3 separate regions of the Homo sapiens genome follow, and all the other regions are reported to be linked to region 3. The links are microRNA targets in miRTarBase. Many come from high-throughput screens and were not tested one by one. Region 3 holds a microRNA gene; each other region holds the end of a gene's coding sequence.
Evidence for each region. Region 3 holds the annotated microRNA hsa-miR-4422 (AAAAGCAUCAGGAAGUACCCA, at 1,377-1,397, shown strand). A microRNA usually pairs through its seed, bases 2 to 8, with sites in the 3' UTR of a target mRNA and lowers its output. Matches are read on the target gene's strand: a 7mer-m8 pairs with bases 2 to 8, a 7mer-A1 pairs with bases 2 to 7 and ends in A, and an 8mer does both.

Region 1 (4,201 bases), not on the chromosome of region 3:
CAGTTAAACTATGGAGCAGGTAATGGGACCTATAACCACTAATACTGATGGTATGAGAGCTGGGCTGCTTCTGGCCCCTGACCATTGCTGGGTTGGGTGCCTCTGACCATGAGTCTTGGGTCTTCTGGACTTTGGGGCTAGCCCCTAAGTTCGTCTGCTTTGGAACAGTGCAGAAAAGGATGTCTGGGTCAGACTCGGCAGGGACCCCATGGAACCTCAGCCTCTTGGGGTTCTGCAGCAGCTGGCTAGGTGAACTGCACTCTCTAATTTTTGAATTGGCTCCAGAGAGTCCTAGCCCCTCCCCCAAGAAAAGGGTCACTTATCTGGAATGACACCTCCAAACTTGGCCAGTTCTTTAGGGGTTCCTAGGAGCCCTAGGAAGAGCACCTCAGGAAGCCAGCTGCACTCCCATGAAGCCTCTGCCCCTTTCTAGTTCTCCTGTTCCACTCCCCCACCCAGGTTCACTGGGATCAGGAGGATCATCTCCTTTGGCCTCAGCCCCCTCCCTCCACCTGCCTCTCTAGCTCTGTGTCCCTGGCTGGGTCCTTTTCTCCTCCCGCCAGGCCTCTAGAGCCCACCTCTAATTGTCCTGATGGGAATAATGGGGGAGCGGGGTTGGCTGGAGAGGAAGGGGGAGGGGAGAATTGCTTAGCGCTATGGCCCCCTCCCCCATACCTTATCCGAGTGGGGCAGGGGGACACACCCAGGGCTGAGATCCTTAGCTGGGAAGGGGGGAGAAGGGGGAGACCCTAATGGCTATTCTCTGCAAACACCGGCCTTCCTCCGCAAGACAAACGGCCTCGTCTCCAGCCCGTGCCGGCGCTGCTGATAAATATTTAAAGCTAAAAGGCCGAGAGGAAGGGTGGGGGCGGGCTGGGGGCTCGCAGCGCCGTGGTGCCGGCGAAGAGAGATCCGCCGGGAAGCAGAGCGAGCCTGAGAGCACCGAGCAAATATGGGGGCGGGGATGGCCTGCTGGGTCGCGGCCCAGTGGGTGCAGCCTTCCAGGGCCGACCTCCGGCTGGGAGCACTCTGGACGCGGAAAGGGGCGCCCAGCCGGGAAGGAGGCGCCTTCAGGGTAATGTGCCCCGGCCCCTGGGGCTCAGGACAGCTCGGTGCGCGGCGTTACCTGAGCTTCGCATCCAGGGGTAGATCCGGAAGTTACTCTCGGCCGCCAAGTCCGAGTCCCTCTGCTCCTTGGCGCCCGCCGCCTTGGCGGAGTCGCCGGGACACACCCCGGAGAGGTTCTGCTCAAAGGGCGCGCAGTGCATGTTGAAGGAACTCGGCTCGAGCCCATAGCCGGCCGCGTAGACGCCGGCCGCGCTCTGGCCCGCCATGCCCCCCCCGCCGGGGTACAAGCCCTGCATCGAGGCGGCGAAGGAAGCGCCCGAACCCGCTCCATAGCCCGGGCGCTGGGGGTTGGAAGCAAACGCACAAGAAGTTTGTTCTGGGAAGGCTCCGGTAGCGAAAACCGAACTTGAGGCTGGATATTTAGAAAATAAAGTATTCGCATAATACAATGAACTCATAATTTGGCCGGATGATTTGTAGGCAGGGACGTTTTAGTGTCGGTTTTACGAGATTCCTTGATATATTACAGAATTAGAGTCCAGATTTACACCAAAAAGGACCCCCTTTTTCCTCTCCGGACCACGTGACCCCGCCCACGTGACGTCCCCTCCGCCAATGGCCGGGCCGTCTCCCCACGGCTCCCGGTAATGTGGAAAAAATTGTGTGGCGTTGGATTTATAAAATATGATCAATAATGAATGGGAAAGCCGAGCCCTGTGGATTGGGGCTGGGGGCTCAAGGGCCGCTGCCGACTCCCGCGGGCTGGAGGCCGCTTGCAGGCGAGATTTGGGGAGGAAGAGATTGAGTGGAAGGGAAAATAAATAACCTCGGGGCGATCCGTGTCACCCTCCACCCATCCTCTTCAGCCCGTTACCGAGCGAGAGACAAACGCAGGGATTGAATGCACGCAACTGGGTGGGTGGGTGCTTGGGGCAGGTCTGTTCTTTATTAAACCAGGCCAATTCTGCACGGCAAGGCCTTTTGGGGAAGTTGGTCCGGTTCTCCCAAGACGAGGAATGAGGCGAGCCTGGCTCACGACTCTGTCTCTCTTGGTGCCCCAGATATGCGGGCGGAGATGGAGCAAGTCTTCCTAGGTGCTCCTAGGGCACAGGATCCAGCCCACGGGCCTTGGACGCTGCCGTTTCTGGTGGCAAAAAAAAAAAGAAAGAAAGAAAGAAAAAGAAAAAAAAAGGTTTGAAAGTAAAAGAAAAAGGGGGTTGGGAGGGTGGGGAGAGAAAGGAAGGGTGGAGGTTGGCCCGGGCGCGCTGCTCTCCCGGTTCCCGGAGGCGGATGCCTCAGTGGAGCGTGACTACCAGAGAAGCAGAGGCAGCGAAGGAAGGAAGGCAGAGAGCCATGGCCTCAGAACAGAGCGAAGGTGGCCAAGTCCCTGAGAGGGAGAGGCAGGGAAGAGCGGTCTCCCTTCTCCTCCTGCTCCCCCAACAACAACAGTCCGAGGGAAAAAAAGTATGCTCAGCAGGCCTGCACTCCACCTTTATGCCTGCCCCCCACCCCACCTCCCGACACACATCTTGGGAGGACACACAGCAAAACAAAGAGGGAGGTGGCGGGGGACACAGCCACCAGCCCAGCCGCAGGTCTCCAGCGTGGCCTGGGCGCCCTGGCCTCCCTGGCCGGGCAGCCTCGGAACGCGAGAGGAGGGGGTTTCTCTTGGCTCCCCTCCCTCGTTTTTCTCTCCTCCAATCAGGCTCAGCCGCCTCCCTCACCCCCAGCGCCCCTGGGCCGAGGGACTCGCACCACCTGCCTCCAGCCCCCGCCCCCTCCTCTCTGCAGCCTAGCCTCAGCAGGCGCAGGAGCCCGGTGACAGGCTCCCCACCGGCTCTGCAAGGCACCCGGGAGCAAATGAGGAGCGCTGGCCGGGCCAGTCTCGGGTTCTCGCTTGTAAACTTTATTGTAACTCTTCCGCCCTTTTCAGGCGCAGACAACAGAACAAAGTATAGAGGAACAACAAAATATATAATTAGCCCTCCCTCCCCCCCATAAAGCAATTCACGGATACAGAATACATTCTCTTCACAGTAAACCTAAGAACACTTGTAACAATTGCCCACAGCGCGCATGCTAACTAAAGTAACCTCTTTTGAGAAACACTTAAGACAAAATTGTCAAACCAAAGGGGGTGGGTGGAGGAGGAAAAGAGAGAAGCCAGAGAGAAAGCCAGCGAGCTGGGGGGTTGCAGAGGGGAGAGAGGATTGGGAGGGGAAATGAGGACGCAGCGAGAGAGAGCGAGAGCGAGAGCGAGCGAGCGAGAGAGAGAGAGAGAAGGGAGACAGAAAGAATTACGGCGTGAATAGGCAGTTTCATGTTGTTGGGAGAACTTAGCAGAAATCGGTACCTTGGTCATTACAAAGAAGCACGTTCAAAGGAAAAAAAAGACAATTGCACAAGGAGGCTTTTTACACGGGGAGGGGAGGGGCATGGGGGGCTCAGCCGGGCCTTTGCCGCTCGCCCTCACAGGGCGAGGGAGCCTTTGCTTAAATCCTTTTCTTTCCCCCCGGCCCCCAAGAGAAGGGAAGGAGATCCACGGTAGCTCACACACAGAAGCTATTACGAGATACTACCACTAGCGGGGACTGGCGCGGCGGGGGACGCTGCGGTGGGAGGCCCGGCTCCTGGCCCCGCTAGCGGGGCCAGAGCTCTCTCGGGCAGGGGCGCGCGGCGGCGGCGCGGCCGGGACCCGCGGACGTGCGGGCGGCCGCGGCCCTGGCAGTCCCAGCTGAAGCCTACTTCTTGTCGCCCTTCTGCGCGTCGCCCTCGTCCGCCGCCTCTGGGGCCCGCTCCAGCTTCTGTTTCTCCAGCTCCTCCTGCTCGCATTTGCTGCTGGGGAACTTGTCTTTGTTGTTCTCTTTTTTCCACTTCATCCTCCGGTTCTGGAACCAGATTTTGACCTGTCTCTCTGTCAGTCCCAGGGCGTGCGATACCTCGATTCGCCGCTTACGAGTCAGATAGGGATTAAATAGGAACTCCTTCTCCAGCTCCAGGGTCTGGTAGCGGCTGTAGGTCTGTCGGCCTCGCCTGCGTCCGGCGGCTGCTGGGAATGGGGGAAAGGGCGAGACAGAGGGGAGGGGAGGGTGGGGGAGGGGGCAGGGACGGAGAAGGTTGGAAGATTCGTGAA
Region 2 (4,214 bases), not on the chromosome of region 3:
AAAGATAGAAACTTGAAGAACACAAACAATTTAAGGAGTGAACAGCAGAAGAGACCAGTAGGTAGAAGTGTCACCAGGACCACCTGCTTGAGAGATTAATAATGTCAGTCATGAGAAATAAAATCTCATGAGGAATGAAATCCCTGGGGATCTTTCCATAAAAATCACCATGACATGGTAGACATGAAAGCTGGGGGGCTTAGAAGCCAATGTGAATCAAAGAGATGGACAAATTACCTGAGGCTGCATTTTACTTATTTTTTATTTAATATTTTAGAGACAAAGTCTCACTCTGTCACCCAGGTTGGGGTACAGTGGTGTGATCATAGCTCACTGCTGCCTTGAACTCCTGGGCTCCAGCAATCCTCCTACCTTAGCCTCCTGAGTAGCTGGGACTACAAGTGTGCACCACCACATCGGGCTAATATTTAAATTTTTTGTAGAAACAGGGTCTTGCTGTGTTGCCCAGGCTGGTCTTGAATTCCTGGCCTCAAGCTATCCTCCTGCCTTGGCCTCCCAAAGAGCTGGAATTACATATGTGAGCCCTGCTCCCGGTCCAACATGGTTCATGAGCCTGGAATGTTGAGGGTGCCTAGCACCAGACATGTTCGTCCCAGAGCTGCTCTGCATGGGACGTCTGGCTTCACAACAGTTTTTGTCTGGTGGCCCAGATTTTCAGTCATATTTTTCTCAAGTGCTGACTCTGGCAGGTTGGAATTAATTTCTTTCAGGCATTCTCAATTCACTCTGCCTCCAAGATTCAGAATTATTTCATCTGATGAACTGTGACCATCTCAGCATGAGGACTCTAAGGAGTGTAAATGTCATTTGTGGTCTGGTTTTTTTCTATCTTGGCATCTGTTATGGACTGCATGTCTGTGTTACCCCAAAATTCATATGGGATGATGTGGGACTTTGGGAGGTAATTAGGGTTAGATGAGGTCAAGAAAGTAGAGCCCTTATGATGGAACTGGTGTCCTTAGAAGAAGAAATATGTCTTTCTCTCTCTCTCTCCACACACACACACCAAGGAAAGACTCTGTGAAGACACAGCAAGAAGTTCTCCACAAGCCAGCAAGAGAGCCCTCACCAGAAAATGAACCAGCTGGCACCTTGATCTTGAACTCCTAGCTTCCAGAATTCTGAGAATTAAATTTCTGTTGTTTAAAGTACTCAATTTGTGGCATTTTGTTATGGTGGCCCTAATGGACTAAGACAGCATCACAATGTAAAACCACACACACACACACACACACACACACACACACACACGGCATGACACACATTTTTACCCAGCAAAACTCCATCTTACACCAAGAATTCTTCTCTGCTTTGGAGCAGCTCAGTGAGTACAAGATGCTGGAAGATGCGCCCTGCAGGGCAGAATGCCCAGGCATGGGGCACAGCCCTGGCCCTGTGTCCTTCTGTTTCCTCAGCCTGGCTTAGGTGTTGGGCTCTTGGTCATGGCTTCATTAGGACTAAATTTTGATGGAAACGGGCATGACACACATGCCAAGAGCACTCCTTGCTCCCCAGGGCATTAAATCACCTTGTTATTTAGTGCCCTCTAGAATCCACTAATTTACATGTGGTCTCTTCTCATAGAAGCATCTCAAGTAAATCTGAATTTGTTTAGACAATTTTATGGGTATTTTAAAACCACAATTGAATTTCAGGCCTTTGTCGCAGTCCAGCCAAGATGCACTCCAATTAGAAATAATTGCTATTAATGCTGTTATGATGTGGAGGATGCCTGCAGTGCTCCTGGACCTTTGTTGTACTGAATCCCCGAAGAGTCTGAGCTTTATTCTTTAACTAAATAGACAGGACCCTAGAAGATACGCTTCTGGAATTGTAATATTACAGCAATATTGTGCTTCTCTCTTAATTAACCTTGTTAACCAAGGATTTGGAACATCAGTGGGTGACTCTGAGAGGGCCTTTGATCCTCTCAGTATACATCTACAGTGGAATAAGATGTCACTGTGAAATAAAACGCCTTTATTCTTTGGCATACACCAAATACCTTCATCATTCTTTGAGTAATGATTGACAGTCTCGTTTAATGAAATAATGTTTGTCAAATACTTAATTTGCTGCCGGGCACAGTAAATGTTAGTTATGATTGTTATAATATTATCATAAAACAAGTTTTTTTTTTTTAAGGTTTTCTGAATGGAAAGGAAATACAGATCAGGGCTGTCATGTTCGTGCAGGCCACTCAAGGTAAACCATAGTGGATTCCAGAGTTTACACCCCCTGAGACTGCTGCCCCTATGACAGCATTTTACCCCCAAGATAGTCAAATTCTCAATTCTTTAGACTTTTACCGGGTCTCCCAAGGTACCGCTCATCCCCTCCTTGCTCCCCACAAGAGGGAAGAGACAAAGGCTGCTGTTTCTCTTGCAAGGCTGCCCCCACCAGCCTGAGAAGGAGTTCCAGGGATATGGTAATTAACATATTTTTCTTAATCTTGCTTTTATAGTTAATCTCCAAAGCATGAAAGCACTTTGCCAGTTGATTAAACTGTAAGAATACAATAGATCCAAAGTGAGGGCAGCACTGATGAATATAAATGCATAAAATTGCCCATTCTGCAGGAAAATGCCTCAACCTGAATCCCAACTTGAAATACTAAGTTGAACACTTAACTTTAATTGCACGAATATATTTTTTGGATCAATAGATAGCAAAAAACCTAACTTGGTATAATTTCATCTTCAAAGTAAGAAGCAACCACTCTTTGATCTCTTCTAGGAAACAAAAGTGATTCTATTTAAGAGTTTGGTCTAGGATCACTGCCTATGAGGGGGCTTCAGGGAATGCCCGGTAAGGCTCTTGGGCACAATAGTGCTGGATGGGCCTTTAGCCAGACTGCCACTCGGTCTGCGTATCCAGGGCATTCAGAAGCATTTGTGTAGCTGTTTTGGAAAGAAGGGCACTGGAGGCGGGCCTTTTCTACATTAGGTGGTACAGGTTCAAAATGGCCAGAGAGGATAGCAAGGGGGTAGAAATCCAGAGCTGTGTGTCCTCTGGAGAGAGGGCATTCTGGCTGGATATCCACATGTCCTCTTCGCCCCTCAGCCCTGCTCCCCAAGGCAGGTCAACCACAGCCGCTGGCTCCATTTGAGCCACCTCCCCAACGACCAAAGCTCAGGGCAGCTCATGGCCATGGCTTATCACTTTCTTACATCTGTGGTAATGGAAATGACAAAAATGGGCTGTCTTTATTTTTGGAAAAAAAAAGAAAAAGAAAAAACCAAAACTCAACCAAATAGGTGATAGCAACATTATTTTCAAACACATTGATTGAAAATTCTAGTCCAGATAACAGAATAGGAGTGGTACTTGTGGTCTCCAGATATATTCCACTGTCAGACAAAAATACTTTTCTTCATTGAAGTACGCATTATGTAACACTGTGTATCAGATGACCTTAGCCATAGAGTTGGTCTTTAGAGCTTCTTCTTTTGGTCAACAAAGCCATCCATTGCATGAAGGATGCCCAAATAGTCAGCTATAAGCAGTCCTGTCTTGAGGGGCAAAAAGCTAAAGAGAACACAAGAATAAACTTTCTTTATTATCATTCATGAAAGCCTCTTTACCACCTCTACTGAAAAGCAGTGTCACCTCTTGTGGCAGATGAAGTCACTCACTCATGCACACACTATGCAGCCTGAGTGCTACCCGCCTCAGGGTCACTGGGCCTTGTTCACTATATCCGGGGACACTCGCCCAGGGCCTTGACAGGTCTTCTGGCTTAAGTTATTCAATTCACTTCTCATTTCGGTTTCCAAAGCATCACTCCACTGTACAATGACACAGAGGAAGCAGTGAAGTCTTGTCCTGTAGGCATGCGCTTTGGGGGCAGATGAGCCTGGCTGGAATCCTAGCTCTGTCATTTGCAGTGCCGCCTTAGGCAATCGACTCAGCTCATAGACCTCAGTTTCCTCAACTGTAAAATGAGGTCATCAGTCTGCCTTTCTGGCGCTACTGTGAGGATGAGATGCAATAGCTCCTCAAACCTTGGGCAAGACCCAACTAACACTGTCCATCTTCTCCATCCACACCTGCCCCTCTGCAAAGCCATATACATGCATGATCATCATCCCAACAGAGCACTCTGCTCCACTGGCCTTTGCATTCAATACTGCAGAGCAAGGAAACAAAGCAGGCACGGGAAACCTGAGACTCATCCTAAGGTGGGGGTAAAG
Region 3 (4,183 bases):
CTCCAGCTTGGGCAACACATAAGACTCCGCCTCAAAAAAAAAAAAAAAAAAAGCAACTTAATTCAATCAGGGATTAGGAGGGTTTCTGTGGGTTTCTGGACCTCAGTCTTTGTGAGGGCTAGTCTATTTTTGGCCCATCTTACTTGTAGGATTCTTTAGGGTTCCCAACTGGTTTAGTTGTTCATTGCTGTATCTCAAACCACTTCAATATTTGTGGCTTAAAACAATAGTGATTTCTGGCAATTATCTGGGTCGACTGAACAGTTCTTCATTTGGTATTGGCTGGGATCATTCGTAAAGCTGCATTCAGCTGGGCACTTGGCTGGGGCATTTTAGTAAGTTTTCACATGGCATCTCTATACAATATTCCATCCCCGAGGGCCTCTCCACATGGCCTATTTCTCCACTGGGATAACCTTGACTTAAGCATGGAGGCTAGATTCTAACAGGGAGAAATCCAAAAGTACAAGTCCCAGTGAGCAAGTTCATATTTAATCTTTGTTTGTTTCACCTTTACTAATGTACTATTGATAAAAACAAATCACATAAGCCAGATGCAGTGGTGTACACCTGTACTCTCACCTACTCAGGAGGCTGAGACAGGAGGGTTGCTTGAGGCCAGGAGATTGAGGAGGGAGTGTGCTATGATCACACCTGTGAATACTGCACTCCAGCCTGGGCAATGTAGCCAGACCCCCATCTCTCAAGACACAAACAAAAGAAAACAAATTATATGGCTAAGCCCGAAACCAATGTGAAGAGGACCACCCATAGGCATAAATCCTGGAAGGTTTGGTTCACTAGCAGCCAGCTATGTAACATATTACCATATCAAATGAAATCCTATGGTGCTTACCAGAGTACCTCCTCTTTAATGGCTCCTGATCTCCAATTCTTGTCATCTCAGCCCTGTAAGCTCTCTTCAGCTTTTGGGCTTCTCAGTTGCTGATTAGGAATCAGCAAAAACATTAAAGGAAAAGCAATACCAAATGATGGGTTCACCTCTCTGTACTTCCTTTCTCTTTGGGATTGGTCCTTTGAGTTCACGTTTTCTTAGAAACTTTCCAGTGCCTTCAAACTGGTATTTCCTGTATTCTTCCCAGCTTTTCTAGTTGTTCTCAGTAGGAGGGATGGTCTTAAGCAAGCTGATCTGTATTGCTGGCTCACAGTGGCCAGGGGAGTAGAAAGAGCTCAAAGAGAAGTGACTGGTTGGGTCCCAGGACTTCTAGTCTCAGAAAATCCCTCAGTCTCTAGCAGGGCAGGGCAGAGGAGCCCCAGAACCACCTTTCCTCAAAGTACTTTAGCCTATGCAAGCTTAGACTGTTGTCCTTTCACTGTTAACCAGTATTAACCAGTTAACCAGTTCTTCTGCAGACAAAAGCATCAGGAAGTACCCACCATGTACCAGTGGGCCCTTCTTGATGCTCTTGATTGCAGAGGAGCCCTGCAACCTGAATAAATCCTCCTGGAAGGTAAGTGGGGGAGCCCTAATTAAAACTGTAATTCAATGTCTCGATATTTTGGCAAATGAAGGTTCAGGTGAGTTTTAATTAGTTTCAGAAAAAGCAAAGTAAAATGATATTTAATGTACTGGATTTTGATGGATACAAATCTATATCCATTATATACTATATGTTTGTTTTTTCTAAAAAAAAAAAAAAAAAAAAAAAAGGCAACCAGAAAATTGTCATCAATGTTCATACCTTGAATACTCTAATTGAGTATTGACTTTTTTTGGTAACAGCTTTCTTGAGATGTATAATTTACATACCATACAATTTACCCATTTAAAATGTACGATTCTAGTTTTCAATGCATTCACAGATATGTGCAACTATCACTGTTGGCAATTTCAGAACATTTTCATCACCTAAAAGGAAACTCTGTAGCCTTTAGCTATCACTCTCCCATTTCCCTGTTTCCCCCAACGCCCCCAGAGATAAGCAACCACTAATCTACTTTTGGTCTCTATAGATTTGCCTACTCTAGAAAATTCATATAAATGGAATCTTATGTGATCTTTTGAGTCTGCTTCTTTCACTTAGCATACCTTTACAAGATTTATTCATGTTGTAGCATGCATTAGTACATCATTCCATTTTATGGCTGAATAGTATTCCATTATATGGATATTTTGTTTATCTATTCATGATGGACATTTGAGTTGTTTCCAACTTTTGGGTATTATGAATGATGCTATAAACATTTAAGTAAAAGTTTTTGTGTAGATATATGTTTTCATTTCTCTTGGACATAAACCTAGGACTTGGATTGCGGGTCAAATGTTAATTCTATATTTAATTTTTTGAGGAACTGCCAAATTGTTTTCCAATTTTATATTCCCACCAGCTGTGTATGAGGGTTTTGATTTCTACACATCTTCTCTAATACTTAGTAATAAGTATTAAGTATCTGACTTTTTTTTTTTTTGAGATGGAGTTTTGCTCTTGTTGCCCAGGCTGGAGTGCAATGGTGTGATCTTGGCTCACTGTGACCTCTGCCTCCAGGGTTCAAGTGATTCTCCTGCTTTAGCCTCCTGAGTAGCTGGGATTACAGGTGCCTGCCACCACGCCTGGCTAATTTTGTATTTTTAGTAGAGGTGGGGTTTCTCCATATTGTTCAGGCTGGTCTCGAACTCCCAACTTCAGGTCATCCGCCCGCCTCAGCCTCCCAAAATACTAGGATTACAGGTGTGAGCCACTGTGCCCGGTGTTTGTATTTTTTTTTTTTTTTTTTAGTAGAGGCGGGGTTTCACCGTGTTGGTCAGGCTGGTCTCGAACTCCTGACCTCAAGTGATTTACCCTCCTTGGCCTCCCAAAGTGCTGGGATTACAGGCATGAGCCACCACACCCGGTCAAGTCTTGTCCTTCTTCAGGACATTTGTTTCTAAATATTTTACCTTTTGGTGCTATTATAAATGGAATTGTTCTCTTAATTTCACTTTTGAATTGTTCATTGCAAGTGTATAAACATACAATTGAATTTTATGTATTGATTTTGTAACCTGCAACCTTGCTGAATTTGTTTATTATTTATAATAGTTTTTGTGAATTCCTTAGGATTTTTAATACGCAAGATCATGTTGTTATCTTGTATATTAATGATATATAAGATAATATATCTTTCCAATCTGGTTGTCTTTTATTTATTTTTCTTGCCTAATTGCCCTGACTAGAACCTCCAGTAGAGTGTAGAATGGAGGTGGTAAGAGCAGCCATCCATGTCTTGCTACTGATCTTATGGGGAAAATACCCGGTCTTTCACCATTGAGAATGATGTTAGCTGTGGGTTTTTCATGGATGCCTGTATCAAGTTGAGAGAGGTCTCTTTTGTTCTTTTTTTCCTTATTATTATTTTTTTATCATGAAAGGTATTGGATCTTTGTCTCCAAATGCTTTTTCTTCATCTATTGAGATAATCATGTCATTAAAAGAATTCTGTTGATATGATGTGTTGCATTAATTGATTTTCAGATATTAAACCAACCTTGCATTCCTGGAGTAAATCCCACTTGGTCGAGGTGTATAATTCATTATATATGGTACTGGGATTCAGCTTGCTAATGTTTTCTTTTAAAGCATAGTGGCCAGGCACGGTGGCTCACGCCTGTAATCCCAGCACTTTGGTAGGCCGAGGCGGGCGGATTATGAGGTCAGGAGATCAAGACCATCCTGGCTAACATGGTGAAACCCCATCTCTACTAAAAATACAAAAAATTAGCCAGGCATGGTGGCAGGCGCCTGTAGTCCCAGCTACTCAGGAGGCTGAGGTAGGAGAATGGCGTGAACCCGGGAGGCAGAGGTTGCAGTGCGCTGAGACTACGCCACTGCACTCCAGCCTGGGCGGCAGAGTGAGACTCTGTCTTAAAATAAAAAAACAGAAAAACGATAATATTGGGGAAAGAGAGCAATTAGTTTTATTTTTTTAATTTTTTATTATTTACTTCATTTTATCATTTTTTTTTGAGATGGAGTCTCGCTCTGTTGCCAGGCTGGAGTGCAGTGGCATGATCTTTGCTCACTGCAACCTCCGCCTCCTGGGTTCAAGTGATTCTCATGCCTCAGCCTCCCAAGTAGCTGGGATTATAGGCACGTGCCACCCCAACCACCTAATTTTTGTATTTTTAGTAGAGATGAGGTTTTACCATGTTTGCCAGGATGGTCTCGATCTCCTGGCCTCATGA

Region 1: the mRNA of HOXB8 is a reported target of hsa-miR-4422. Seed matches in the 3' UTR shown: 7mer-A1 at 3,067-3,073.
Region 2: the mRNA of SDR16C5 is a reported target of hsa-miR-4422. Seed matches in the 3' UTR shown: 7mer-m8 at 2,495-2,501.

Annotation. Positions count from the first base shown.
Region 1 is chr17:48,609,393-48,613,593 of GRCh38, forward strand. It overlaps HOXB8 (homeobox B8), which reads right to left. Exons shown (of 2, transcript NM_024016.4): 2 at 2,954-4,117. The coding sequence ends at 3,810. It overlaps HOXB7 (homeobox B7), which reads right to left and starts at 1,625. Exons shown (of 2, transcript NM_004502.4): 1 at 1,127-1,625. The coding sequence starts at 1,526. RefSeq lists enhancers at 497-1,317, 1,318-2,137, 2,138-2,958 and a silencer at 2,752-2,801.
Region 2 is chr8:56,298,025-56,302,238 of GRCh38, forward strand. SDR16C5 (short chain dehydrogenase/reductase family 16C member 5) reads right to left here. Exons shown (of 7, transcript NM_138969.4): 7 at 1,981-3,549. The coding sequence ends at 3,456. Among named protein-coding and RNA genes, the nearest start is that of SDR16C5, 20 kb to the right of the region's middle.
Region 3 is chr1:55,224,280-55,228,462 of GRCh38, forward strand. It overlaps MIR4422 (microRNA 4422), which reads left to right and starts at 1,362; the gene lies at 1,362-1,444. All of the region lies in intron 1 of MIR4422HG (MIR4422 host gene), which reads left to right.